Regions from separate parts of the Homo sapiens genome. Here region 1 is linked to region 2. Evidence: fine-mapped expression QTL. A gene starts in region 2. The other region holds a variant in brackets. All regions are shown on one strand. Distances are between the middles of the regions.

Region 1 (2,921 bases), 280 kb after region 2:
GGCAATCCAGATCAGGCATGAAAATTGGTTCTCCACTGAGACTTAGTATAACTTTCTTAGGGTCTAAACTTCCTGTAATGGAACCCAGCCCTTTAAGGATGAAGGCTGGCCCTCTAAGTGTTGAATGTAGCTATTTAAACATGAGTCCTGACCCTTCAAGTATAGAATCTTACTTTATAGGCATGGAAAGTCCATCCAAATGTGAATCCTGCCCTTCCACACATAGGATCATTCCTATAGGATCATTCCTATAGAATCACTCCTTCTAGAATCTCATGTGGAATCTGGAATTCAAGATGTGAATCAGAGCCTCTAGCCATAGAATTAGACCTTGGAGGCAAACCATGACTTCCTACCCGTTTGATGTCTCTTTCTCCAGGCTTAAAACATAGCCTTCTAGTGGTAGAACCAAAATTTAAAGAGATGTTATGTAGCCCAACAACTGTGGAATCTGATCATCTAGGCCTAAAATATCTAATCTGAACTTCTAAGTCTGAAATAAAACCTTCCAGTTTTGATATTTGACTGTAGACATGGAATATAATTCTCCATGTTCAAAACTGGCCATCTATAAGTAAAACCTGAATTTTTGAGTGTGGTAAGGTAGTTCTCCAGACATTGAACTTGACCCCCCATTTATAGAACTGTGCCTTGAGGTATGGAACATGTCACTTCATGTGTGGAATCACAGTCTCCAAAGATGGAAACTTATGAGCATGAAACTTGGCATTTCCAGTATGAAGTCTCAAATTCCATGCATGGAACATGACTCCACATGCAAGGCATATGGCAAACTATGTGTGGCCTTACAAGTATACAGCCTGGCACTTTGTGTGCAGACTCTCACTTATCAAACATGGAACACTGATATTACAAGTGTGGAAACTGGCAACCTAGACATGGTTGGTACCTGAATTTTCAGTTATAGATGCTGTGTTATGTAAATGAGCCAAAGATGGCCTCTGTGTATTGGTCCCTAAGTTATTTCTTCACTGCTGGTTGAGAACCATTAGCTCAAAAGCCTACTGATCTCACACTTAAATTTTTACACATTTAATTGTTTTAAAAATGCTCCCAAACAAGCATAATTTTGGCATTTAGGGCCAACCTGCTTTGCATATTCAATGAAACTACACCCAATATCTGCTAGCCATTGATAAGGTAGAGTCTTGTGGTTATAAGACACCAAGGTGCTGCTGCTGCCCTTCTGAGTTTTCTGACCCAGAGACACTCTGTTATGCTGCTGAATGAACATCACTTAGATACACAGCCTCCCTCTTCTATCCCCTTAACC[C/T]GAGGTTCCCTTGCCTCCTCCTTTTCTGGATGATGGCCCACTCACCATAAGCCTCTGGATGGACTCATCCTGTAGGGACTTCCCCTCTATGCCAACCTGTCTAAGCACCACACAATAAAGCTTATTGGGTGTTACTGCATCTTGTGGTCATATCTCTTTCCCTGATTAGCCCCAAATCTCTTAAAGGAACCCCTTACATGTTGCCACTCTGAGAAATGGAAACCAGTCTCCCAGGCACAAAATCTGATATGTCATATATAAAATCTCAATCTTCAAGCATGGAACTTGGTCATACAACATGGAATCTGGTCCTCCACATGAGATATGGCCCTAAAGGCATAGAACTTTGACCCCATCATCTCCAGCATAAAATCTAGCCCTCTAAGCAGGCACACTGGCCTTCCAGGTGTTTAATGTGGCCCTTAAAAATATCAACCCTGACTCTCCAAGCACAGAATCTGATTATTCAGACATGGAATGTCTCTGCAGAAATAAATCCTGCCTCTCCAAGCATACACACTTAACCTAGGTATAGAGCCTGAGCTGCTATATATGGATCCTTGTCTTCTGGCCATGGAGTAGTCTTTCAGATATGCCACAGGTTATGACCTATGTGAAGTATCTTTTACCAAGCTTGGACCCTCAGGTTCTTGGATGAAACCTGAATCTCAAAACATGTCATCTGGCCCACTAGAAATGGTTCCTGGACATCTAGATCTGAACTCTGGACTTCTAAATATCTAACCTGTACTTCTGGGAATGAAACGAGATGTTTTAGTCTTAGCACTTGATCCCTAAATATGGAATCTGAGTCTAAATGTTTGGAATTTGGCTATCTGTGGATAAAATATGGCTTTCTCAGTATGACATCATACATCTCCAGGTGTTGAATGTGGCCCTCAACTGTAGAACTGTGCTTTCACGTATGGAACATGCCACTCCATGTATAAAATCTTAGTCTTCAGCATGGAATATTATCTTTGGAATATGCCATTCAGTGTATACAATCTCAGTCTCCAAGAATGGAATATGACCATATAAGCAGGGCAACTGACACTCCATGTTTAGAACCACAAATTCCAAAAAGGGAACATGGCCATACAAATGCAGAACTTGACATTCCAGACATGGAACTTAGATTTTGGTCATGGAAGTTGGTTTTCCTAGACATGGAACCTTGCTTCCTTAGCATGAATAGTCAGATTCCATGCATGGAATATAATCTTTCAATCATGGAATTATTCACCCACCATTGGATATGCCCACTGAGGCATGAAATATGGTCTTATAAGTTTGGATTTTGTCCTCGATGGCAAGGAAACAAGCCCTTAATATATGAAAAATTCTTTTCTAGAGAGATAGATACATATATACTTAGATAAATAAGTAGATAAACACAAGTAGGCAAAGTATGGGTGTTTTTTTGGGAAAATTTTTCTGTTAATTGTCTTATTATAAGAATTAAGTTACTTCTAATTCTTTCAGAACAATGCTTGGTTCATAGTAAGCACTTGGAAAATACTAAGTGACGTTGTTATTATTGCTACTACTACTATCTCTTTTATTCATTTATTCCTTCATTCAGAAAATGTTCAATATAACACACATAGGGTTCCAGCATGTATTT
Region 2 (2,921 bases):
GTCTTGCCATGTTGAAGAAGAGATTAGGCTCAATTCTGAATGCAGCATGGACAAGTGGGAATTTATAGCCTAGGAGCATGCAGGACAGGGGCAGTAGATGGAAAATTACCAAGGAAATATCAGGGATAAGGGGGATTCTGACTAAACCAAGCAAACGGGATTCTTGCTGAAGACAGAACAGGAGTTCAGGCCTCACATGGGGGATGCTGGAGGATGAGGAACCTGATCAAATATCAATATTGAGAATGGGGCTTCTTGCTAAATTAAGTTAGTAGGGTTCTTTGCTAAAACTGGATTTTATAAGGAAGTGCAGATGGGCCCAGCATAAGATTCAGAAACCTTACTTGTTTGACCAAGCAAAGAATCTTTGTCAGTGCTTAGGGTTTTTTGTGTTTTAACTCTGTTTTACAAGTAAACGATTATTTTAAAACTTTTGTCTCAAGAAACTTGTTTTTCGTTGTTTGACGTTATTCATAAACCTACTTACTGTATATGTGTCAGGGACAATAGGCTACAAAACCAAAACTAAGATGACAACCTATTTTGTAAAATGAAACTTGTAAAAGGCAACACACTGCATAGTTCCAAAAAGGTACTGTTACCAGAGTTCCAAACCGGTCAGGCCAACATTCCTGTTGTTAAAAAAAATCAATCAGGAAAAGTAGGGAATGCTGACACTTCCGCAAAGATCTACTTTCTCTTAGATAACAGATGTTGAAAACTGATTTCCCACAAAAAAACCCTAGAGGAATTGATAACCCCAGGAAGATGTTTTCTTTATATAACTGCTGCAAAGTTTGACAGCAAAGAGTCAGTCCCTCCTCCTCCTTAGGGGAGATAAACTTGATAATCTGCTTTTGCTCCAGTTTTCTTGTAATCAAGTCACAGGCCTTTCCTCTTCGCTAGCCCCTTTCAGGCTGCTTTTTATCCGTCTTTCCTAGAGCAAAGGACTTGTCCCCCTCCATCCCATTTACTCTCGACCCCCTTTCAGTTACTTGGCATCTTCTTTTCCTCGCGTTTCCCAGTTGGTCCTAATTTGTTCCCCTTTTCTCTGGCTGGCTGGGCTCCCGCTCCTCCACTGCTGCTCCTCCCACTCTGCGGGTTCTTTCTTTCTCCCTCCCCTCCCCTCCCCCAGCCATGCCTCCCAGCGCGCTTCCCTTCCCCCGCCTCCTGGTCCTGCACCCTCCCCTCCCCTCCCCCCGCTTCCTGCCTTGTGACACATCCCGGGCCCTCCCGGAGGCGGCAGCAGCAGCAGCTGCAGCGGCAGCAGCGGCAGCAGAGGCAGCAGCAGTAGCCACCACTCCGCCGAGGCCGCAACCCCGGCTCGGCCTCCCCAGGCCCCGCCGCTGCCGCAGTCATGGCTGCTGATGGGGTGGACGAACGCTCGCCTCTGCTGTCAGCATCCCACTCCGGAAATGTCACTCCCACCGCCCCACCGTACTTGCAAGAAAGCAGCCCCAGAGGTAAGGCCAGCGTAGATCCCTCTACTTTGCAAGGAAGTAGATTTGCAAGGAAACGCCCAGAAGGATAAAGACCTGGGAGCTCTAGCTTGGAGGTGGAGGTGAGCCTCTCGCTTGGGCTGAGGAAGGATGCTGACTGTGCCTTCCCAGGCAAGCCCGCCTGCCTGATAGCTTCTCCGCAGGGTTTTTCTGGTGGTGGTGGTGATGGTGGTGGTGGTGGTGGTGGTGATGGTGGTGGTGGTGGTGGTGGTGATGGTGTGTGTGTGTATTTCACCACTTCTTACCCAGGGCTACAGTATGTGACATGAATTTCCCAAGCTCTGCTTAGCTGTTTTCAGAACAGCCCCTAAGCGCAGCTAGGAGGTGGTGCAAATCTTTCACAATCATTCACAAATCTTTTTCCGTTGCTGAGAAACCAGGAGTATTGCTCACCTTGGCATCTGTCCTTGAAAGGGCTTTAGCTTGAACAATATGCTTCTGCTACCATTCACCCAACAGTGCTCTGTTCACTCAGTGAATTGCCATATCCAAAATGAATACAGTTAATCAATATTCCTAATATGTCTGAAATTCCTGCCCCTCCTTTTTACTCCTACTTTCAAGGAGTATGTGTTAGATTTAATTGTGAATGAGAAGGAAGGACCTTACTTCTCATAGAAGGGAAGATGGGATATTTTTAACACATATCTGGGTGAGATTGAAATTAACTTGTAAAAAGTAACCCAAATTAATAATACATATATTTCTATTTTTTTCTCAAGAAGAATAAAAAAAGATTAAATGCAATGGGATCTGGAGAAATATGGAATCTATTTACCATACTATTCGATTTATTTAAAAATCGATCGTTGTTCTAAGCCTTTTAGTTGATTACTATAGTAAATAAATAAGGTGGAGTCAGGCGTTACAAGAAAATGGAAGGCAAGACTTAAAAAAACCCACTTAGGTTAGTGAAAAGATTGGTCAAAATGGCACTTGCAAATGTTCCTTAAGTGCATCTCTCTCTTTTTTTGGCTAAATATGAGCAAAGTTTAAAAACCCAAGGAAGCAAAAGTTAATGATTTTGAAAATATAAGTAGGTAATGTTTCTTGTAATACAAGTTTTTAAGTTCAAGTCTGGAATTAGAGCTGATGTAGAGCAGGTTGAACTTGCTTAGTATTTAAAATTTCTATTTAACATTTTGTAACTTCAAAATAAACTATCTAGATCTTAATCCATACTTAACAAGAAGAAAAACAAAGGAAAAAGATGCTTAGCTGTAAATAATTCAGTGTGAGCCATGGCTTGAGAAATAAGGCACAGAGAGAGACTTGCCCACAGAAAACCTACAGGTCATTTTTGTTGGTCAGCATTAAACTTGTATCAGAGGACACCAGGCAAGAGAATTTCCTCTAATGGGCCAATTTGATATGAATATTTTACTGTTATCTAAATCGTATTATGTAGAATAGACTTAAACA

Evidence for each region. PIP is the estimated chance that this variant, and not a neighbour inherited with it, causes the effect.
Region 1: its variant is the best candidate, but not a certain one, in a credible set for the expression of PIP4P2 in whole blood (INTERVAL, PIP 0.78).

Annotation. Positions count from the first base shown.
Region 1 is chr8:90,762,017-90,764,937 of GRCh38, reverse strand. The region is part of intron 1 of LOC105375633 (a long non-coding RNA gene); the gene reads left to right. Among named protein-coding and RNA genes, the nearest start is that of NECAB1, 28 kb to the left of the region's middle. The variant C/T (reference allele first, on the strand shown) is at 1,295.
Region 2 is chr8:91,039,186-91,042,106 of GRCh38, reverse strand. PIP4P2 (phosphatidylinositol-4,5-bisphosphate 4-phosphatase 2) reads left to right here and starts at 1,248. Exons shown (of 7, transcript NM_018710.3): 1 at 1,248-1,463. The coding sequence starts at 1,358. RefSeq lists a silencer at 1,027-1,226.